Linked DNA regions of Homo sapiens: region 2 is linked to region 1. Evidence: fine-mapped expression QTL. A gene starts in region 1. The other region holds a variant in brackets. All regions are shown on one strand. Distances are between the middles of the regions. Region 1 holds the start of ATP10B (ATPase phospholipid transporting 10B (putative)). Region 2 holds the start of MIR3142HG (MIR3142 host gene).

The links. PIP is the estimated chance that this variant, and not a neighbour inherited with it, causes the effect.
Region 2: its variant is fine-mapped to the expression of ATP10B in monocytes after R848 (Quach 2016, PIP 0.94).

The regions. Positions count from the first base shown.
Region 1 is chr5:160,846,886-160,859,587 of GRCh38, reverse strand. ATP10B (ATPase phospholipid transporting 10B (putative)) reads left to right here and starts at 7,377. Exons shown (of 26, transcript NM_025153.3): 1 at 7,377-7,647.
Region 2 is chr5:160,461,142-160,471,873 of GRCh38, reverse strand. MIR3142HG (MIR3142 host gene) reads right to left here and starts at 3,623. Exons shown (of 2, transcript NR_132748.1): 1 at 3,434-3,623. RefSeq lists enhancers at 3,519-3,678, 3,709-3,938, 3,406-4,042, 4,043-4,679, 9,360-9,439. The variant G/AG (reference allele first, on the strand shown) is at 6,303.

The sequences.
Region 1 (12,702 bases):
AAAGATGTATTTTAGATATACAGAAGACTGGGATTAGAACAGACTTATCTAAAATTTAAAGGACATTTGAAGGGGGATTATGGGGAGGGGGCCTGTGCTTTGAATTTACAGATTTAAGAAGGTGAGGAAATCCCAAACAGAATAAATTCAAAGAAATCTACACCAAGATATAATTAAACTTCTGAAAGGCAAAGACAAAGAAAAAAATATTGAAACCAACCAGAAAAAGAATAATGGCTTACCTTAGAGGAAGAATAATTTAAATGACAGAGTATTTCTCATTAAAAATCATGGGGGCCAGAAGGAAGTACAAAAATATTTTTTAAGTTCTATATGAGAAGTTTCAATCCATAATTCTATACCCAGTAAAAACATCCTTTAAAAACAAAAGGGATCAATGCTATATGTGAAAACAAACAAAAAAATAAAGGGGGAAATAAAAGACATTTGCAAATGAAGGAAAACCAAGGGAATTAGTTGCCAGCAGACTTATCTTAAAAGAAGGCTAAGAGAAGTTCTCTAAACAAAAAGGAAAGACAAAATAAGTAATCTTGGAACATCAGAAAGGAAAATATAACATGTTAATTTAAAAAAATAGCTAAATGCAATAGGCTTTTCTTAAACTTTCTAAATTATGTTTCACTATTGAAGTAAAAATTATGACACGTTTCATTTGCTTCTAAATATATGTAGAGGACATATTTATGAAAATTATATTATAAATTAGGAAGGAGAAAAGAAGTAAATTTTTTATATGTCACTCAAACTGGTAAAATGATAAAACTATAGATTGTAATAAGTTGTGTATATATAATACAATATCTAAATCATTCAAAAAGCTATACAAAGAGATATACTCAAAAATGCAAAAGCTGAAAATGGAATTCTAAAAAACTGTTCAAACAACCACAGGAAGGTAAGAAAAAGAAAACAAGAAAAAGACAAAATGGTAATCTTAGTCCCTAACATATTAATAATCACATTATATGCAAGTGATTATGCCAATTAAAACATGGGGTTTGGGGCCTGGAACCTCACCATGCAGCCTGCCTTTTTCCTCCAGTTACAGACCCACTGGCAGGTGGAAAATATCTGGGACTCCAAGGAACACAGTTTACATACCAGTGACTTGAGAAACAAAATTCAAAATTTATTTTAAAAAAAAGATAGACAAAGTAGATTTTAAAATGATCAGTTACATGCTTTCTACGAGAAACTGACTTCAAATACAGCAATATAAGCAGATTAAAAATAAAAGGATGGAAAAAGATATATTATGGAGACATTAATCCAAGGAAAACAAAAGTACCTATATTAATATCAGACAAAGTAAACTTCAGAACAAAGAAAATTACCAGAGACAGAGACATTATATAATGGTCAAAAGCTCAATCCACCAGGGAGACACAATTTTAAATATGTATGCACCAAACAACATAGTCACAAAGCATGTAAAACAAAAACCAATATGACTGAAAGGAGGAAAAATGGACAATTCCACAATACCCCACTCTCAATTGATTTTTAAAAAATAAAAAATCGAATATAAAAATTTTACATCAAATAAAACAGATTAATAGACAATTGTAGAATACTTCTCCCCCAAGAAAAGTAGAATATTCATTCTCTTTAAGTGCCATCAAACAAATACCAGGAAATAATATATTCTGAGCCACAAAATGAATGTCGACAAATTTAAAATAATTAAAATTGTACAGAGTGCATTCTCTGACCATAATGAAATCCAACTAGAAATTAGTTATAGAAAGATAAAAGAAATCTGAAAACACTTGAAAATTAAACTATACACATCTAAATAGCTCATGAATAAAACAGCAAATCTCAAGGGAAAAATACATTGAACTGAACAAAAATTTAAAATACAACACAGTAAAATTAATGGGACACAGCTAAAGCAATGCCAAGAGAGAAATTTATATCACTAAATGCCTATGCTAGAAAAGAGAAAATTTTCTCTAATAATCTAAGCTTCCATCTCAGAAATATAGAAAAAGAAGATAAAAATATCCCAAAGCAAACACAAGGAAATAAATTAAAAAACAGAAATCCCTAAAATTGAAAACAAGAAAATCAACAAAGCAAAGAGCTGGTTCTTTTAAAAGATCAACAAATAGAATTAATAGACCTCCAGCAAGACTGACAAGAGAATAGACAAAAATTACCGATATCAAAAATGAAATGGATATCACCACTGACACAGCAGAATCAAGGGATAATAAGAAAATAATATAGACAACTCTAGACAAAATGGACCAATTCCTTAAAAAAAAAAATACAAACTACCAAAACTCACTGAATGCAAAATAGATACTTCCAATAGCTCTATATCTGTTAAGGAAACTGAATTTGTTATTTTAAAACTTCCAAAAAAGACATTTCCAGACCCAGATGATTTCACTGGGGAATCCTACAATTTGTTTAAAGAAAAATTAATTCAAATTCTGTAAATATTTTCCAGAAGATAAAGTAGAATAGGTTATATCTCAAATTGTTTTATGAAGCTGGTATTACCCTGATATCAAAACCAGGAAAAACAGTATAAAAAATTATAGACCCAAAGCCTTCATGAATATAAATGCAAAAGTTATTAACAAAATATTAGAAAACAAAATTCATCAATTAAAAAATTATACATGATGGCCAAATGGAGTCTATTTCAGGTATGCAAAGCTAGGTCAAGATCTGAAAATCAATTAATGTAATAGACCACATTAACTAGCTAAAGCAGAAAAATTACATGATCATATCAATTAATGCATTAATTAAATTCAAATGGAATTAATGCAGGAAAAAACTAATTCAAAATCCATTCACGATAAAAAATATCTCAGTAAAATAGAAATACAAGAGAACTCCCTCAACTCAAATCATCTACATACAAATCTACATACAAATCATCTACATACAACTCAAATCATCTACATACAATATACAGCTAACATTATACTTATTAGTGACAGACTTAATATTTTCCCCCTGAGACTGAGAACAAGACAATGATGTTCACTCTCATCACTTTTATTCAACATAGCCTTAAAAGTTTCAGTGAGTGCAATAAGGCAAGAAAATAAAATAATAGGCATACATATTAGAAAGGAAGAAATAATACCGTTTCTATTTGCAGGTGACATGATTGTCTTTGTAGAAAATCCAAGGAATCTACAATATACTCCTAGAACTAATGAGCAAGTCACCAAAATTGCAGAATACAAGATAAACATACAGAAATTTATTCTATTTTGGTATACCAGCCAGAACATATGTGCAGCAAGCAAAATGTGTACAGGACTCATATGCTAAAAACTACACGATGTTGATAACATAAATGAAAGAGGACCTACATAGATGAAGAGACACACTATGTCCATTGATTGGACTATTCAAATAGTAAAGATGTCCATTTTTCCCAAATTAGTATATGAATTTAATACAATCACTATCAAAATCCAAAAAGTTTTTTCTAGGTACAGACAAGATTATTATACAATTTATATGAAAAAGCATGAAACCAAGAATAGTTAAAACAATTTTGAAAAAAAATAAAGTGGAAGGAATCTATCTACCTGATTTTAAGATTTATATGATTATAGTCATCAAGACTGGTACTGGCAGGGGTATAAACAATGGAGAAGAATCCAGAATCCAGAAATAGATCCACACAAATATGCAACTAATTTTTTTTTTTACAAAGTTACAAGAACAATTCAATGGAGGAAGGACAGTCATAAAACAAGTGGTTCTAGTACAATTGAAAATCCAAATAAACACACAAGGAAACCTTGATCTTAACATTACAGTTTACACAAAATTTAACTCAAAATGGATCATAGACTTAAATGTAATTCATAAAATTATAAAATTTTTAGAGAAATAGGATAAATATTTAAGATTTAGAAGTATGCAAAGAGTGAAAAGGAAAATTGATTCAATATTGCTTTAAAAATTGATGTAAATAAACCTTTTGATCTGTGTAATACCCTGTGAAGGGGATAAAAAGATAAGTTATGGATTGAAAGAAAACATTTCCCAACCACATATCCGACAAAGGTATAGTATATAAAGAACACTCAAAACTAAAAAAAAAACAAACAAAAATTAATTAAAACATAAGCAAAAGACATTAAGAAATATTTCACCAAACAAAATATATAACTGAGAAATAAGCACATAAAAAGATACTCAACATCATTATCCATTAGGAAAATGCAAATTAAAACCAAAATGAGATATTGCTATACACCTATTGAAATAACTAAAGAGTAGTGACAACACCAAATGCTGGTGAGGATGCGGAGAAACTAGGGCCCTCACACATTTCTGGTAAGAAAGTAAAATGGTATAGTCACTCTGGAAGAATATCGCAGTTTCTTAAAATACTAAACGTGCAAATACATCTAGGATTAAAATACTAAACAAGCATTTATTAAAATACTAAACATACCATACAATCCAGGAATTAAACTTCTGTCTGTGCATTTATTCTAGAAAAATACTTCTATTCACACAAAACCTGTGCACAAATGTTTATAGCAACTTTATAACAGAGCTGGAAATAACTCAGATGTCCTTCAAAGGTGAATGGTTAAACAATCTGTAGTTTGAGTCCCAGATACTTCCTAGTTATGTGAAAGCACAGTTATTTTATTCCTTTTCCTACATTTTCTCTCTCGTAGAATAAGAATAATTGCGTCAATCTATTAAAGTTTTTGAGGGAATTAAATGAGTCAAAGTATGTAGAGCACTTAACATGGTGCTGGCACAAAGTACTCAGTAAAAATTAGCACCAATAGGGAGTGTAAATTAGTTCAACCATTGTAGAAGACAGTGCGGAGATTCTTCAAGGATCTAGAACCATAAATACAATTTGACCCAGCAATCCCATTACTGGGTATATACCCTATAAGTCATTCTACTATAAAGACACATGCACAGGTATGTTTATTACAGCACTGTTCACAATAGCAAAGACTTGGAACCAACCTAAATGCCCATCAATGATAGACTGGATAAAGAAAATGTAGCACATACACACCATGGAATACTATGCAGCCATAAAAAAGGATGAGTTCATGTCCTTTGCAGGGACATGGATGAAGCTGGAAGCCATCATTTTTAGCAAACTAACACAGGAACAGAAAACCAAACACCACATGTTCTCATAAGTGGGAGTTGAACAATGAGAACACATGGACACAGGGAAGAAACATCACACACTGGGGCCTGTCAGGGGTTGGGGGGCTAGGGGAAGGGATAGCATTAGGAGAAATGCCAAATGTAGGTGACGGGTTGATGGGTGCAGCAAACCACCATGGCACGTGTATACCTATGTAACCTGCATGTTCTGCATGTGTATCCCAGAACTTTAAAGTATAATAAAAAATAAAAATTACCACTAATAACACTTGCACAGCTTGTAGAAGATAGTCTTAAGATTATGAAATCCATCCTGGTTGTGTGGTACTGGTGTCGGGGATGGGAGCAAAAGCCTCTGTCTACCATTGCTTCTTTAATTGACTAGTTTGGGCAGCAAGAATACAAAAGCTAGACATGACACACTGTGTAAAAATCAGGAATGAAAAGCATGATGTGGTCAATAAGAAATGCAAATACATACAAAAATGCTAAATTGCCTTAGTGTAGAAAGATTGCCTGCTGGAAATAGGAACTATAAGTAAAACTCTGTGAGTGTGATTTTTAAAATATGATTTATTACAAAATTCCAGCAGCCAAACAAAAGAAAGATAGTCCCTCTAATAAAAACTGAACATAGCATTTCTTATCTATTATTTGTTTATTAGGGTTCTAATTAGCCAGACAGTGTCACTTAATTTCAACACATTTTATAAATAATTTGCCATATGTCTGTTAGTATTTACGATTTCCAGGCAGTTTGGAAAATGAACATATTTGAGGACTCTCTATTCATTGGTTAGCATGAAAACCCAAGGGATGCTACAGACACATTTGTTCCTAAATTGCATGTGCCTCTCTCTTTACCAGGAAAGTGATAATGGGAAAGAGCTGGTCTTAGGAGAAAGACCAGTGATGGAAAATATACTAGTCTTAGGAGAAAGACAATGTGGTTTGAGGTCCCATGTTCACCACCAAATTCCTGTTTGGCTTTGAGCAATTGTATTCACTTCTCTGAGCTTCAGCATTCTCCTCCATGGCACAAGGGGGCTTCACTAAATAACCTCCAGTTACCCACTAGTGCAATATTCTGCAATTTAACCGTATCTGTGATTCTAGACCACACTCGTCCCTAGAAGCCAGAGCACTCTGAGTGAAGGGAAGTAAAGGAACAGGGACTTAAGCATTCTTCTCTTTAGCAGATGGAGAATTTTGAAATGCCAACTCGCTCTTTTAAAAATTCTAGACTGTCTAAAGCATAGGCAAATTTCATGTTCTTAAAAATTCCTAGCTTGTGTCTTACACACACAGCGATGCAGATTTTAGATGGTGTGGGTGTTTCTTCTCTTGTAAAATGTTTCCTATGTCCATGTTTCTTCTTGGTATTCTGATAAGATCTGTAGGTACATACAAAGTTCACAATTACTCTACCAACCAACCAAAATCTTATGTAAAGATTTTCATGAAGTTAGTATGTTCACTTCTTTCCAACACCTTTTATTCCTAAGTTTGGTAATATTTCTTTTTTTTACTACCCTTAAAATCAACTTACTGCTCATTCTACCTTCTCTTTTATTTATGGACCCATCAATAATTATCCATCAATACAGCAACTTGCTCATGACATTTATGCCAATTAGTTGAGTTGTAGGTAACTTAATAAAAGGATTATACATGAAAATCTCATTTTAGGGTATGAATCGAAGCTATCAATAAGCCCATTACTAATTCTGATTTTCTGTAAGTTTGCACCATTCACATAATCTGCCACTATAATATATTGGTCCCACTTTCCTTATTTTGTATAATCAAACAGTAATCAATAAAAACTATGACTACTGCAAAATGAGACTTCTGAAGCTTTGAGGGCAAATTCATCATCAGCATGCATATAAAAGTCACTGTAGAGAGTCTTTTCTTTCTTAAGTGCCCTTGAAACCCAGCAGCTGAATCATATTTCAGGCCCCCCAAAGAGAACTGCAAGGTTATAATTGTCTCACACTTAATTACATGCATTACCAAAGGTAGATGGACAAAGTCATTTTGTACCATGCGTAGAGAATAAAAATCACCATGAATTTTGATATTGCTGGCTCATTGATTCACAGGAAGTAGAAATTTATGCAAGAACCATGTCTAACAATGTAAATGTTCAGCCAAGTCGAAGAACACTGCCTTCACTGTTCTGGGACTCGGCCTCACATTCACAGACTTGCTATTCTTCTCTTTCACTCTTGGGCCTAGCGAGGCAGCTTATTTTTCCTTTTTCTTTCATTGGTCACAGTTATTTCTTTTCAGTGTGTCATCTTCTCTAAGTTTCTGAGGGAGTGTTAGCTTGAGGCCTTGCCTTGACATAATCAGATATAATCAGAAAAATGAAAAATTCCATAGGAAAGAGAACTATTTTAGCCAAGGTGTGCGAGAGAAATACCGCCACTTTCAAGCACTGTTTTCTTCTACTGGAGTCTGCTCAATAGGGACGTCAGCTTTGCTGGGGTAAGTAAAAGCATCCTGGCCTTAACCTATATAATGGGGGAGTAATTGCCTCTTAGAATCATCAAGTCTAAGTTCTGAATTAGGCCCAGGATATGACTACTTTTCTTTACACTGCATTTGAAATTTCATTTGGCTTTCTGGGTGCGAGATCCACATTTCTTTTCTAACAGAATGTTTTATTTTTCGTCAATTGATTTCATTATGATAAGCTGATGGCAAATGCTACTTCCTCACTCAACAGGGCTTGCAGTCTGAATGTGCCTGAATACATTTTATGATAAATAATATATCCTGCTATCCTGCATTCATCCAGTGCAGCCTGAGGAAGCAGATGGAGTTACAGCCTTCTTCTCAAAGCAGAAAGAAACTATAGCTTTGAGGAAGAGAATGAGATCATTACATGGCTTCCCAATTTCATCTTGATAAACTCTGAAGCTGCCATATTGCAGTAGTTTTCAACTATAGGTGGGAAGCTTGACTTTCCTTTGAGTTCAAAGGAGAAAACTGTTGCTTAAAGAAAAATGTGTTTTTTCCCTAAGTATGAGTTACTCCTTCCAGAAAAAAAATAAAAAAGCCCCATGCATGCAGGTCTGTGATGAATACATTTAGGACAGTCCTGTGGCCTGCTATTAAGGCTGGAGTGACACTATCCCTAACCCTAAGGTGAAAAGTAATGTTAAAAATAAAAATTATACTGAGCTGCTAGTTATTTTGCCTACAGGAGTGCATGCCTGTGTCTGGTGGAACTTGGTTTTTCTCTGAATTTGCCAGGCAATTTTCTCTGAATTTGCCAGGTAGGCAGAGGAGAATTTGAAAACTGTAGAGAGGAGCTTGACCTCCCAAAGCCAATCTGGCACTCTGCTACTTCCTTCTTCCACAGTTTCTTCTCTGTTTCCAGATCTTGCAAATGTACAGTCAAGACTGCTTGGAGTATTATTCCATTAACAGACATACAGTTACATTAAGCCATTAATCAGGCAGATCACAGATGTTGTTTTCTGTCTAGATGTTACTATAATTACTCTTAATAACACCCACTGAGTTTGTCATTTCATCCATTGATGACTTTTTAAAAAATTCTTGGAAAATTCATTTCTTACAGCCTAATTATATGGATTTAAGGGTTCAGGATCTCTCCTCAGGTTTTCATCATGTATTTTTTAAAGAGTATAGCAGTATAACATCACATATGGGTGGATTAATAGGCTCTTGAGAAACTGAAGGTTGAAACCCACATGCTGACTTTTTACAGTTAAATCATACTCCTCTCGTGCTAAACGATGAGCCTTATCTTTTGAAGCATGTGATACTGATAAGTCCAGTGAAGGAGGCTGCCTTTCAAAGGAACGGAGCTCTGAGGAATGGAATGGAACTTAGTCTAGCTGCCTAGTTTACAGATGATAAAACTAGGACCTAGAGAAATGAAGTCTGAATTACTGAGAGAAAAGGACACCAGAGTCCAAGGCTCAGAGCTCTCAATCCAGTGTTGCTTCTTCTTGTTTATTTTGTTTTGTTTTGAGATGGAGTCTTGCTCTGTCACCCAGGCTGGCGTGCAGTGGCGCAATCTCAGCTCAATGCAACCTCTGCCTCCTGGATTCAAGCAATTCTCCCATCTCAGCCTCCCAAGTAGCTAGGATTACAGGCATGCACCACCATGCCTGGCTAATTTTTGTTTTGTTTTTTGTTTTTTGTTTTTTAGTAGAGACGGAGTTTCACCATGTTGGCCAGGCTGGTCTCGAACTCCTGACCTCAGGTGATCCGCCCACAGCCTCCCAAAGTGCTGGGATTACAAGCGTAAGCACCGCACCTGGCCCAGTGTTGCTTCTACTACCACTTTCATTCTTCAAACAGCTTCTGCCATGTCAGAAGGGAATGAAAATTTCTTTTGTGACTCAAAAGTAAACTAAAACTCGTTGGATTCCTGAGACTGATTCTACCCATTTACCCACTCTCCTTAAAGTAAAACTTAGCCAGGCATTCTTAAATTTTGCTTTGAACCTAGGGAGTTCTAGCTTTTCTGCTGATTAAATGTCACTGATTTCTCATTTTCTGGTGACATTGTTTTACAATTCTTTTAACTACAAAGTTTAAGTTTCTGGAGCCTTTTCTTCTTTTCATTTTTTATAAAATACCCTTTTATTAAGAGATGAAGTTGGGTAGTCAGAATAGGAGTGGGTATTGTTTAGTAGAAAAAAAACGGGCTTTGGAATAAAACTTGCATATGAATTACAGTTCTGCTTCCTATAATTGTGTAACCTTGGCAAGTTACTGCGCCTGTCAAATGCTCACATTAAAAGAGTGTGTGTGTGTGTGTGTGTGTGTAATTGCCAGTACAATTCAATAATTGGCCCACAGAAGGCACTTAATAATTGCTAGTTACTACTAAGAGAACCAGATGAGAAAGAATATTAATGGATATGGCATTTTTTGTTTATTAAGTACTGTCTTAAACGTCTGGAGAAAAGAAGGAGAATCTCATTTTCTGCTTTCGTTATTAGTGATCACTGGCTGCTGTTGCCAATGCAGGGAGCCTTGCAGATAGTTAGCAGCCTGAAAACAACTTGTATTATTTGAGAGGAGGTACTTTTGTCTCTTAGATAAAGTTTTTGCAGGTCGCTCTGGTATGGTGCAGTATCAATCTGAACTCATTAAGTTGAAGAAGTGACACAGGAACACAAGAATACATTGTTTCTTTGCCTCATCTGCTTAATTAAAAATTCCAGATCCCTCCACTCACAAGCAAGATTGATGGTGAAATCTTCACACACATGCTACCGTATGTTCTCTACCTCCTCCTCCCCAAGTACAACCTAGAGCAGTGGTTCCCAAATATGCTTCCTGGGCCGGCTGTATCAGAATTACTCGGGAACTATTAGAAGGGCAAAACCTCAGGCCCTGCCGCAGACATGCTGAGTCAGAAACTCGGGATCACTCAGAAATCTGTTTTAAATAGGCCTTCAGGTGATTCTGATGGAGTTCCAGAACCATGACCTGGAGAACATGCCCAGTTACTATATGTACTGCAGTGTTTCTCAAAGTGAAGAACAGGTACCATGATAGAACCAAAAATGATCTTAGGTAGGACAAAGATGACTTTAGGTGATACTCACGTATTATATCAAATAGCTAGATCACATAGTAAAAGTTTTCCCTCTCAACTCTCTTTCCATCATTAAGTCTCATTTTGGTATGACTAGACCTTTAATACCTCTCTACCCATTGCTAATCTCCCATTTCAACAAAGAGAGCTGGATGCAATTTTGATGTCTTTAGGTAGCAGCAGGGTCCAGCTAAAACTCAGCAATAGTTTTCTTCTCTTTATGGCATGCTATTTAAATGGTGATAAACTTTTCCTTTATAAATGTTTACATTAATTAATCAAAAAAGTTAAAATACAGTTGGCACGTGGATTAGCAAAATTATGTCAGTGATATGGCAGTGAATGTATTTAGAGAAATGCTGGTATGCTAGAAAGAACCTAGTTACATCAGTGCTTTAATTTCATTTGTGCCATTTATTAGCTGTGCTATTTTCTTAGCTGTGCTACTTTTGTAAGCCTCAATTTTCTCATCTATCAAATGGGAGTGATACCAACATCATAGAAATGGTATAAGAACTTATGAATGGAATATGCCTCCTGTAACCCTCAGAACATAGTAGGAACTTGCTACATCCTTATTCTCTCAAATCTCACTTTGAAGTCAGGTTTCTGTGTGGCCTTCTCAATAGCATTTCTGTTGGGGCTTCAGATTCTTCATTTGTAATGTGACAGTAAAGACTTGAAGATCTGAAAGGTTCCTTCCAGCTCTTAACTAATATGTATTTACACATGTGTATTGTATGTGTGTATGTTTACATATAGTGTAAATTCTGCATATAAGTATGACTTAGGCATAAATAGTTATTTTCCCCAGGCATAAACCTGGAGTGTGCAGGGATAATATTGAAAATAGATGGCTGTGTTGGAAAAATAAAAAATCAAATTGTGAGAGATGTGGGCGCTGATATACATATCAGAGCTCAAAGGTAATTTCATTGTATTTTACCATCATCTGTCAAACTTAAAGCAATACCGACACTAGAAAATAGATTTTTGCAGAGGTTTCTGAGGACAATGGTTTCCATGAGCTGGTGTAAATATATTCAGAGAGACTTGTTCCTACTTAATAACCCGCGTTTTTCCTTCTGAATTGCTGATGCATTCATTTATAGCATTTGAAAGGCAGTTTGTCCTTTGCTGTCAAGTGAACTTGACACAATAATAAGAAATTCTGAAAAATTCAATCAAATCTTGTTGCTTCTCAAAGGAATTTCTCGACTACTTATTCTGTTTAAGGAGAAAAAGAGAAGACAGTGTTTCTTTGGTCTTGTATAAAACACTAACCAAGTTTAACAGCACAGGTTCTTGTTAGCAGGTGCCACATGGAGTTTTCCCTCTCAGTAATCCAGGGGACAGTTCTAACTGAGGTTTGGGGGTTCTTTGGGAAGTAGCAGCAATACATAAGGGGTCACCGCAAGGCTGTACTGTTATAAAATCAGAAGCTGTTATCAGCTTATTTATTGCTTACAATATGCTTGTGAATCTGGAGACCTAAAAACAGAGAAATGGCGAAACTTGCTTCTCTTCCTTAGACGATAAAATAGCTTGCATTGTCTTTTACATAACTGACTATTATAGAATCCCAGAAGCTAGATACACTCAAATATTGGCAATTCTGATGAAATGCCCCAGGAACTATTAGACTTGATTTAACAGGCACTGAACTGAAAATTAGCATGTAAGACAGAGAGAATGTGCTTGCAATCATGCAGACAACAGTTCAAATTACTCTCTTTGAGCTCCAGTCTCCTTATCTATAAACTGAGGATAAAATGTTTCTACCTCACAAGATTGTCCTGAGAATTAATCGAAGAGGTAATATTGGAAGTAGCCAGAACATCTAACATTAACTGAGTACTTACTATCTGCCAGTTGCTATTTCAAGGGCTTCAACCGCATAGGATCATTTAAGCCTCAATAAATCTCTGAGATAGTTACTATTATTAGCTCCATGT
Region 2 (10,732 bases), 390 kb after region 1:
CCTGAAGGCTGAATTTGACTTCTTAAAAGCCCTGTGAGATCTCAGGTTTCCTAGCAAAAGCTATGAAATCTCTAGAAATAATAATTAAACATGTGACATTGGAGCAGAAATAGCAAATCACCAATAGAATAAAAATGAGATTCTAGAAAGATATCTGTGTACATGCTGTAATTTAGGACCAGGTAAAAATGTCCTTTCAAAGCAGAGGAAGAAATCAAAAAGCAGAAGAGCGGAGTGTACGAGAACTCTCTGTGCTGTCTATGCAATGCTTCTATAAGTCTAAAACGATCCTAATGCTAAAATTTTAGTTTTTAAAAAAAGTAGAGGAAAAACTAGTACCTAAAGAGGAAAACATTAACATCAGATCTGTCTTATATCATACACAAAAATATACTTCAGATGGATGACAGAACTAAATGCAAATGAACAATGTGATGGCAATAAAAACTATAGAAGTTTCAAAGATAAATATAAAAATAAATCTTTACAATCTTCACTTGAGGAAGTCCTTTCTCAATGAGACACAAAAACAATTGCAAAAAAGACTGACAGGTTTGAGACTATCTGTGTGGCAATATAATTGCACACTGGAGCAGCAAAGAGGATCAGTTTAGTAAAGAAGTAACCACAGTTGTTTTTGCAGCTTTCTTCTGGGAGATAATCCAGAGCCAAAACTTTGAATCTCGAGTTACAGAAGTCAAAGGGAAAGGCCCTTGTGGGGAACACCCATTTGGCATCCCTCTCTAATTTGCTTTAGATTTAACAGGGAAATTTTTCTTCCTTCTCTCTGTTCCTGGTGTCCCCGGTTGAAGGAAGTCTCTGGCGAGCTGATGGATGTTATTGGTACATAGTGGCGACCTTAAGCCTAATTCTGGGTTTGGCTAGAACAACTGGCTCTTTTCTTACTATTTTAATGTCTGAACTGATATGGGTGACATTTCCTCCAGCAGTGGGGGCAGCTGATAATGACGACTGTAGGCCAGATGAGTGCTGATTGCTACACACCAAGATTACCCCAAAATGGAGGCAGTGCATGACTCCCTCCAGTACCCCAAGAGACAAAGCTAGAGAAAATACTCAGCTCCGCATCCAAAACTCTGAAATTAACTTCCCCTGAGATGTGCAGAGTTTTATGCTCAAACTTCCAAAAAATATTAAAAATTCAAGATAGTCATTTTTCTCAGCATGAACTTGTGCACTCTTTTTTTTGTATATATACACCATGATTCAGCAATGAACTTGTGTTCTTATCTCCAACAAGGAATGTATCTAAATAGTCATATCTTTAAGGATATGAGTTTTTAGCGGAGTCAGGAACCTAGGAAAGAACTATACAAAGAGGTAGACAGCCCTCAGCCACCCCTTTGATGGTGTATCCATGCATTTGCATTGTCCTATTATCTTTTCTTAGAGAATCAAAAGACCTTTCTAAGATCTTGGAGAAAGAGTAACAAATAGTATGTAAGATATTATATCAGAGTCAGTCTGGAATGGGAAAAATCAGATGTGAGTCCCTACTGGAAAGTGGAGCCTTAAATCAATCACTTGATCTCTTTGAGTTTCAATTTCCTTAGCAGTCAAATGGATTTAATTCATTCATTTAACAAATATTTAATAAGTTCCCATTATGTGCTAATTCTACTGTTTCTACCAACCTTACAAATTTTATGAAAGAATTACATGAAATGACAAAAATGCTTTACAAAGTGTAAGTCATAAAAATAATTCATGTTATTGTTAAAAATAGAAGATTTTCTCTTGTTATTAAATAAGACTAAAGCCCAGAACAAAATAAGAAATGTTTGCCAGATTGTAGAACAACCAGAAGGAGGAATCCCCATTGCAGTTCAAAAATTGCCCAAAAGCTGGCTTTTAGGGACCACACCCAAGACTATAGATTGCTGACAGCCACAGAAAACAAATATTTACTACAAGTTGAGCCCAAAGGCCTCCACTGAGAACCTAAAACTACACAGAACTGAAGAAGTGCATGCGTCTGATTCCCGCAGGGCCTTTGGAGAAAGTGGGACTCTAGGAATTCAGAGATGAGAAGAGGGCCCAGGAATGCATCACCAGGAGCCATCCAGTCAGCTCCTCCCCGCATCCCAGGCCTGGCCTCACAGAATCCTGAAGATGAAACATCACCCACTCCACAAGCTAACAGTCCAACAACTCCAAACAACCGGCACGACCCCCAGAGTCCACCTTCTCTCTCTCAAAGAGCTTCTTGTATGGCTGCTTATCTGTTCCAAGGAGTACCATGCATAAGGACAGCAGTATGATTTTAAAAACAACAAATAAAGAGAAGCCAGTTCTGTCCAAAAACCCATTGTTAATAACGGGGATAAAGTGTCAGTAAAGCGCTACACTCAGAAGGGTTTGGGGCAAAATCAAAGCAGAACCAGGGCACACAAATAAAATAAAGGACACTGCACTTTGGGAGGCCGAAGCGGGCGGATCACCTGAGGTCAGGAGTTCAAGACCAGCCTGGCCAACGTGGCGAAACCCTGTCTCTACTAAAAATACAAAAATTAGCCAGGCATTGTGGCGCGCATCTGTAATCCCAGCTACTCTCGAGGCTGAGGCACAAGAATTGCTTGGACCCAGGAGGCGGAGGTTGCAGTGAGCCGAGATCTTACCACTGCCCTCCAGCCCGGGCGACAGGCCGGGAGCAAGACTCCATCTCAAAAAGAAAAAGAAAAAAAAGAAAGAAAGGACACTGAATGTGAAGGTCTCAAATGACAAGAAAATACCGTAATACAATAATTAAACCCATTGAGGCATCAAGAAAGAAAAGTGACACTGTTTGCCAATTAGTATACAAGTCAGGTTCAGTATGTAAAAGATTCTTTTTAAAAAAATAGAAAATTTAAAAAAAATTCTTACTATCCAAAGACAAGATTGAAATTGAGAATAGGAACACAATAAACAAAAAGTAATAGCCATAGTCTTCCAACCCTGAAACCTCCTAAGAGCACCATATTTACTGTCCAATATTTTCATGCTATTGTCACTGCAAGAAAGTTTATGACTTGCTAAATAGAGACCACAGTCTACAACTCCAGGTTTAAAGCATATTATTTTATCATCCATAGAGATTCTAAACCACTTCCTGACCCCACTCTATCCCCCCCCACCCTGAAAATAACAAAAGGTTAAAAATATGTCCCTTTTGAAAATGGAGCCACATCTTTACTAAAGCACTGGAAATATCTCCAAGTCACTGACATTTTTATATTTCTAGACCATGACAAAAGTCTCACCTACTTGATTCTAATGTCATTTCAATATGCCTTAAACATCTTGATTATATCTTTAATGTGCCATTTACTCTGCAATAATCCACTGTACAAAAGCCTGCTGCCTCTCAAACAGAAGATAAGTACATAATAAATCAGCTTGCAATGATTATTTTTTCCCAGCTCATACTCACAGCGAGCTCCTAAAATTTCATTTTATTTTATCATTTCCAATTCAGCCGCTGTTCTCCCCCTCCTCGTTGTGCTACTGTCTCCTGTCCATCCTGTCCACCCTTTGGCATGCCTTCCGGCCCAGGGTTTACCACTCCAATCGGCCCTGCTGGTGCCATCCAGGAAAGGAAGAGCGGTCAAGCGTCTTGGAGAAAGAGCATCTTTCTGGAGAGACTCTTATTTGCTGGGGTAGAGGAAGGCAGCTAAGGCCTATTTGCATATGCTTTTATTCCATTTCCACACCCTGCACGCTAACCCTCTCTGGAAAGTCCCTTCTAGATCCCTCCTCGGCACAGCGAGGGAGGAAGAGGCTGGGCCGGAATGGAAGGTTCCAGCCTGGCAGTGTCAGCTTCTCTCCGCGGAGCTGAGGGGGAAGCCTCCACCTTCCCCATCATGCGTGCAGGGTCTGGACCCCCGGGTCGGGGACCCTCTTGCAGCACGTGTCAGGAGCAGCCTGGTGCTTTGGCCTGCGCGCTCTAGAGCGTTCTGTGCAGGATGCGCCTGCTCCCCTGCAGCCTCCCCCGAGGAAGTTCTGGTCAGGCGCTGGGTCCCCAGGCTTCCTGTCTGTACTCTCCGCAGCCCCGCGGGGAAATCCCGAGAGCTTTATCGGCTGCCCAATGAGCCTGTTGGCTTTTCAAGTGCGCGCAGGCTGAGTTTCAGCCAAAACCTCAATTTAAACGTTAACCAAAAATAAATAAATAACATGTGTGCAGGCATTTAAAAAGAGAGACTGCCTTTGGGGAGAAGATCAGGCAGAAAGCTCCCTTGTTTCATTGCTGCAGATACACGAGGCCTGGATTTGCTCACCCTTTGAACAAAGGGATTCTTTGAACTGTAAACTGACCTGGCAGGCGGAACACTGAGAAATCTTCCTGAGCACCTTTCTCTGGAAATGTGAACATTCAAGGCAGTCTTGTGTGTCAGCTAAAGAGAACAGTCATAGCTAAATTTTAATGGGCACCTACTAGGCACCAGGCACTCTGCTAAATGTATCACGTGCATCATCTTCCCTAATCCCACAGCAATCATCCATAGCAGGTAGCCCGAATTATTATCTCCATTTTGTGATCCCCTTTTACTCATAAGGGAATTTTATCTTTGGTGAGGTTAGGGGGACTTGCCTAAGGTCACACAATTAGTAAGTGTTTCCATGGGTGCCCTTAGCTGCTCCTTTTCCCAAACTGGAAAGAACGTACAAGGCCTTTGGAATGTGCAACTGCAAATTCAAATTCCCAGTCGAGAAAATATAGCTTCCTTTCCTTGGTCACGTGCTCATGGACCGAAAAAGACCAGCTCAAAGGATTTTGCTTCCAGGCAGATGTAGTCACTTTCCTGACCTCCCCTGAAGGTTTTTGTTGCTTATCTTGCTGAGCTCCCAAAAGGTTTGTTTGAACGTCTACTATAGATAACGTTTTTAAAAGCAAATATTTATTGAGCAATTGTTATACACCAGACACTGTTCATAAAAACATGTTCTTATTTAATACTCCTAAGAACCCTAAAAAGCAGATACTATTCTTAGATTAGAAATGAGGAAACCGAGGTTCCAAGAGAGTCGAAACTTGCCAGAGTTCACATAGCTAGAAAATATCAGAGCCAGGATTTGAATTGAGGTTTCCTGTCCCCAAATCTCTGAACCTGGTACACTGCATTACTCTGCCTCTCAAGGGGTCCACATCAAAACTATTTCCTTGTGTGAGATTCTCTCCCATTGGAAGGGAGTTCCTTGGGGGTTTGGGGTGGACCCAGGTATCTGAGTGGGCTCTGGGCATACCTTCAAGCACTCCAGCATCTGCTGAAACCGGGTGGGTTGATGGAAGGGAGGAAGCATAAGGGTGACCAGAAGAGTTAAGGGCACTCTTAACACATCCCATGTTGTATTAAGGAGTAAGCAACCTATTTGTGAAGTTTTTATAAAAGGTTAAAAGCTGCCTAATTCAGTTAGCGACAATTCTGTTTAAAGAAATCCAAAATTATTTGGATCCATGAACTGGGGGCTAGACTCAAATGGAATAAACAGAAGGAACTCAACCCTTGCTGGTTTCTGCTAACAAGTACATTATCCCGTTCCAGTCAGTTAACTCGACTTCGGCATTCCTAAGGGCTCCTTTGTGACACCTGGGGGTCATTAGTATAGTTTTCCAGAAACAGGAAAGTGGATGCTTGGAGCCAGAATTTAAGTAGCTATATGCTATCAGCTGCAAGCACCTCCATCTGCTGCCTTTTGCCTCGGGAGGAATAAACTCTAAAATCTTGAGGCAGGTTTTCAGGGATGATATATGAATTCAGCCTCATCCTTTTACAACCAAAATACGTGTCATTTTTGTTTCATTTTGTTGGGGGGTAGGGTGGAGGAGAGCTTAAACATCATTTATATAACTTATATTACATGCCAGGGAAAGTGCTATGCACTTTACCACCATTATCTCACTTAATGCTGATAAGATGGGTATTCGTCTCTATTTCACAGACAAAAATCCAGAAGACAGACACTCACAGAAATTAAATAAATTCCTAGAGTTAAAAGTCAGTAAAGAAGCCCTGGCACGGTGGCTCACGCCTGTAATCCCAGCACTTTGGGAGGCCGAGGCAGGCGGATCACCTGAGGTCAGGAGTTTGAGACCAGCCTGGCCAATATGGTGAAATCTCGTCTCTACTAAAATTATAAAAATTAGCCGGGTGTGGTGGTGGGTGCCTGTAATCCCAGCTACTCAGGAGGCTGAGGCAGGAGAATCGCTTGAACCTGGGAGGGGGAGGTTGCAGTGAGCCGAGACAGCACCACTGTACTCCAGCCTGGGTGACCACAGCGAGACTCCATCTCAAAAAAAAAAA[G/AG]ATGCTGGAAAGAGAGGAATTGTGTGGAAGGAATGTGAATCTTCTTTGCTGACAAGAGCACTGTCTTATCTGGTTTGGAGTCCCAGTCCAACTAAGTGTTATGCTACATTTCTCATAGGTACTCATAAATGCAAAAGTTAACTGAATTACTGGGTTGGAGCTGTTGTCTACTCTCAGGAAGCAATCTTCATTGTTGTTATGAAGACTTTTTGAGGCCTGCATTGTTTTTACTTTAATTCCAAGCAGCATCACTCTTCCTTTTGAATACCTCACTCCCTCCCCGTCTCCACCATTGAATTAGATATTTCAAAATGCACCCATATAGGCTGTCCTCAATTCTGCACAGCACAGTACTACACCATTTATATAAGGGACTCGAGCATCCATAAACTTTGGTATCCATGAGAGGGTCCTGCAACAATCCTCCTTGGATACCAAGGGATTACTGTACTGTGTTAACTGAGACATGCGTATATCAGAACCATGTCCTCAATTTGCATAATTCCGTGGTGATGTTGATATATGAGCTAAAGCTGATAAATCAATTCAGTGTTATGATGTTATCTTGAGGAACCATTAAATTAAACATTTACTCACTTTAATTTTGTGTTTTCCTTTTGAATTTTGGAGCCACTTTTTTTTCATGAGCCCTGGAAAAGCACAGACACACAGTGTCTAGAGTCCCTTATGTTTTACCTGGTCCCATGTGTAAGGGATGCTTTTGCTCCATGTTTTACGTTGCACATACAGGGGACTTGAGAATCTCGCTGTTGTTCACCTTAAATGTCACAGTGTGGGCTCAAAAGTACAAAAATATAGACTGGAAAGATGACCCTCAGGTATGCCCTGAGTACTGTGGGGAAGTCTCCACCTGAATTCTTTGGCCCTCAGACTCTTTGATCTGGTAGTAGGAAATTGTGACATATACAATTATAAAAAAAATACCCCCAAGTGTCACGACAACGTTTGTGTTTCCAGCCCACTCGGTAGCTCAGATGCTTGGGGTTCTTAAACTCAGGAAATTCCCCAAATAGACAGCCGCTGTTGGGGTAAGGATTAGAGCTGGTACTTGATCAGCTGGCTTGCAGTTTAGATGGGGCTCAGACTCGGGATGCAGCTCTCCCTTGTCCCTGCAGGTTCAAGTGAACCTGCTGGACTTCCTATATCCAAAGAAAACTCTCATGTAACCAAATGCCCTTTGGCCCACGAAGGTGCTGCATATCAAGCATAATAATCATTAGACACCCTCCTGCCTGCCACAGCCCACACTTTCTCCCTCCTTTCATCAGAGCACAAGCCTGTCTGGCAGAGATACCTTATACCATGTTTTTGAATTTTCATTTGTGCAGAACTTATCTCTCTGACCAGTTTAAATACCTGTAAAGGCAACAAGAAATCGTCGAAAAGCTGGGCTTTAGACTCTTGCTGAGAAAAACTAACTTGAATTCTCTAAGCCATTCTTTAATAAAATCAGAAGTAACAAATACCTGACAGGTTGCATTAAAGATTACATTTATTTTAAAAGCCAGTAAAGTGCCAAACATAATACATGATTCATAGCAGCCCCAGGAAATGACAGAGCAAAGAGATCACCTACTAAATATCTTTGTTGTGTGTCTCATGTGGCCTTTTCCCAAGCTGGACATCCAGAGCGCTATCTAAAGCATTGCGCAAGGGAAAAGGATCACATTACGCTGCCACTATCAATATGCAGAAAAACAATAATGATACCAGCTGTGTTCCTGCATCCTGAGACTCTGCTCCTGAAACTGAAAATGTGTAAATGGGAAATCTCTGCATAGCTAGATGTGGAAACAAAGGAACTGGGCCTATAAGAGAAGCACAGCATCCTCTCCTTCAGAAGTCCACAGGGGCTGGAGTACTGATGATGGCACACAAGGGCACCATGAGTTTCTGTGCATACTAACATTGCAGACTGCCATACCTGGAAGGTGAACAGAGGAAAGGCAGGCATGACTTACCAAAGGGAACACATCCTTGCCCAGCAAACTAAGGAAGTCACCGATAACGTGGGCAAGGATTTAGCCAAAAAATGTTCATGAGTAAAGCTGTTTTAACATCAAAATATTAGCAACAAATTTAATTGTCCCAAACTGGGAATTGGTTAAATTATGGCACATCTGCAACGTAAGCACATTTACTCTATTTTAAATGACGATGCTAAAGAATACTTAACTTTTTTAAACCTTCTAGCTGTCTTTTGAAAGGGAAAATAATGCTATGAAATGCTTGTTGTTGTCATCTAGTATCTGTGCAAAAAGCAAAACAGCACACCAAAAAGATAAGAGGAAGATGGGACTATGTGAGATCTTTCTTACCTTTTCTCATCTGTGCTTTCTACATTAAAAAAAAAAAAAAAAAAAAAAAAAAAAATTAAAGCCAGCCGCAGTGGCTCACACCTGTAATCCCAGCACTTTAGAAGGCCGAGGCGGGCAGATCACTCAGTCAGGAGTTCAAGACCAGCCTGGCCAACATGGCAAAACCACGTCTCTACTAAAAATGCAAAAATTAGCTGGGCATGGTGGCACATGCCTGTAATCCCAGCTACTTGGGAGGTTGAGGCAGGAGAATCACTTGAACCCAGGAGGCAGAGGTTGTAGTGAGCCAAGATCGTGCCACGGCACCCCAGCCTGGGCAACAGAGCAAGACTCCATCTCAAAAAAAAAAAAAAATTAACCATATTAGACTTTTATAAAAAGGGGGAATTTGTTAGTTTGAAAGATAGATAAAGGAAGAGAGAGAGGCAGGAGGAAATATAAGGGAAGGAAAGGAGATCAGAAAGCAGGGATTCATAGACATCTTCCCCCCAACCTGCTTCCCCCTCTACAAACTCTGCCTCTTCAAAACCTCTGGGTGAAGAAAAACAACACTAGCCATGCTGCTAGTAAAACATTACAGACAAAAGACTAGAAACATAGATCCAATGCACCAACAGATAGTAAATATTTATAGAGCAGAGATAAGTGCCATTTAAGGGTAATTTGAGGCAAACAGTGGTTGTCTTTCTCATGCATTCTAAAAGCATGAAAGTATTAAAAAAACTACCCAAAAGTTTTCAACCAAGTAGAATGATCTAGGGCAATATGGGAACATCATCTTCTTTCAAAAGCATCTCAAGGGAAAATACAGTTTACAGCAAATAGTATTAGGGAAATGATTACGTAGAGCAGAACTTCTTGTGGTTCCCAGCCTGAGTCTGGTAAAAACCATGGCACAGTGTTGTGACCAGAGGGTTGGAGGATGCAGACTGCTTGGCTGCCATCCCTTCACTTCTGCTTGCCAAATGAGCCACCTACTTGGTCTCTGTCTGCCTCTGTCGCCTCAACCTGGGGACAGAAAAAATATTGGAGGCTGGGGACAGTGGCTCATGCCTGTAATCCCAGCACTTTGGGAGGCCAAGGAGGTTGGATCACTTGAGGTCAGAAGTTCAAGACTAGCCTGGCCAACATGGTGAAACCCCATCTCTACTAAAAATACAAAAATTAGCTGGGCATGGTGACAGATGCCTGTAATCCCAGCTACTCGGGAGTTTGAGGCAGGAGAATCACTTGAACCCAGGAGGCAGAGGTTGTAGTGAGCCAAGATCACATCACTGCACTCCAGCCTGGGCGACAGAGTAAGACTCCATCACAAAAAAAAAAAAGAAAAAAAGAAAAAGAAAAAAGAAAAAAATATTCGTACCTCACAGGGCTTTTATTAGGATTAAAAGAGTTGCTGCATGTAAAATGTTTAGAGCCATTCTGACGTGTAGGAGGTAGTCCATAAATAAACAGTTGATTATTCTGGTGGACAGTTATTATGTACTGGCTGTCTAGCATCCATTTCCCTTCCTAATACTTTTCCAGATTCAACCCCTAGGCCACAGACCAGTATGGGTCTATAGCCTGTTAGGAACCAGGTCGCACAGGAGGAAGTGAGCAGAGAGCAAATGAGCCAAGTTTTACCTGTATTTACAACCGCTCCCCATTGCTCCTATTACCGCCTGAGTACCACCTCCTGTCAGATCAGCAGCTGCATTAGATTCTCATAGAAGCGCGAACCCTATTGTGAACTGCACATGCAGGAGATCTAGGTTGCACCCTCCTTATGAGAATCTAATGCCTGATGATCTGTCATTGTCTTCCATCACCCCCAGATGGGACGGTCTAGTTGCAGGAAAACAAGCTCAGGGCTCCCACTGATTCTACATTATGGTGAGATGCATAATTATTTCACTATATATTACAATGTAATAATAATAGAAATAAAGTACACAATAAATGTAATGCACTTGAATCACCCAGAAACCATCCCCCTGCCCTGGTCCATGGGAAAATTGTCTTCCACAAAACTAGTCCCTTCTGCCAAAAAGGTTAAGGACCACTGGCTTAAACCATTCTTCCAAACAGTGATGATTGTTTCAGAAAAGG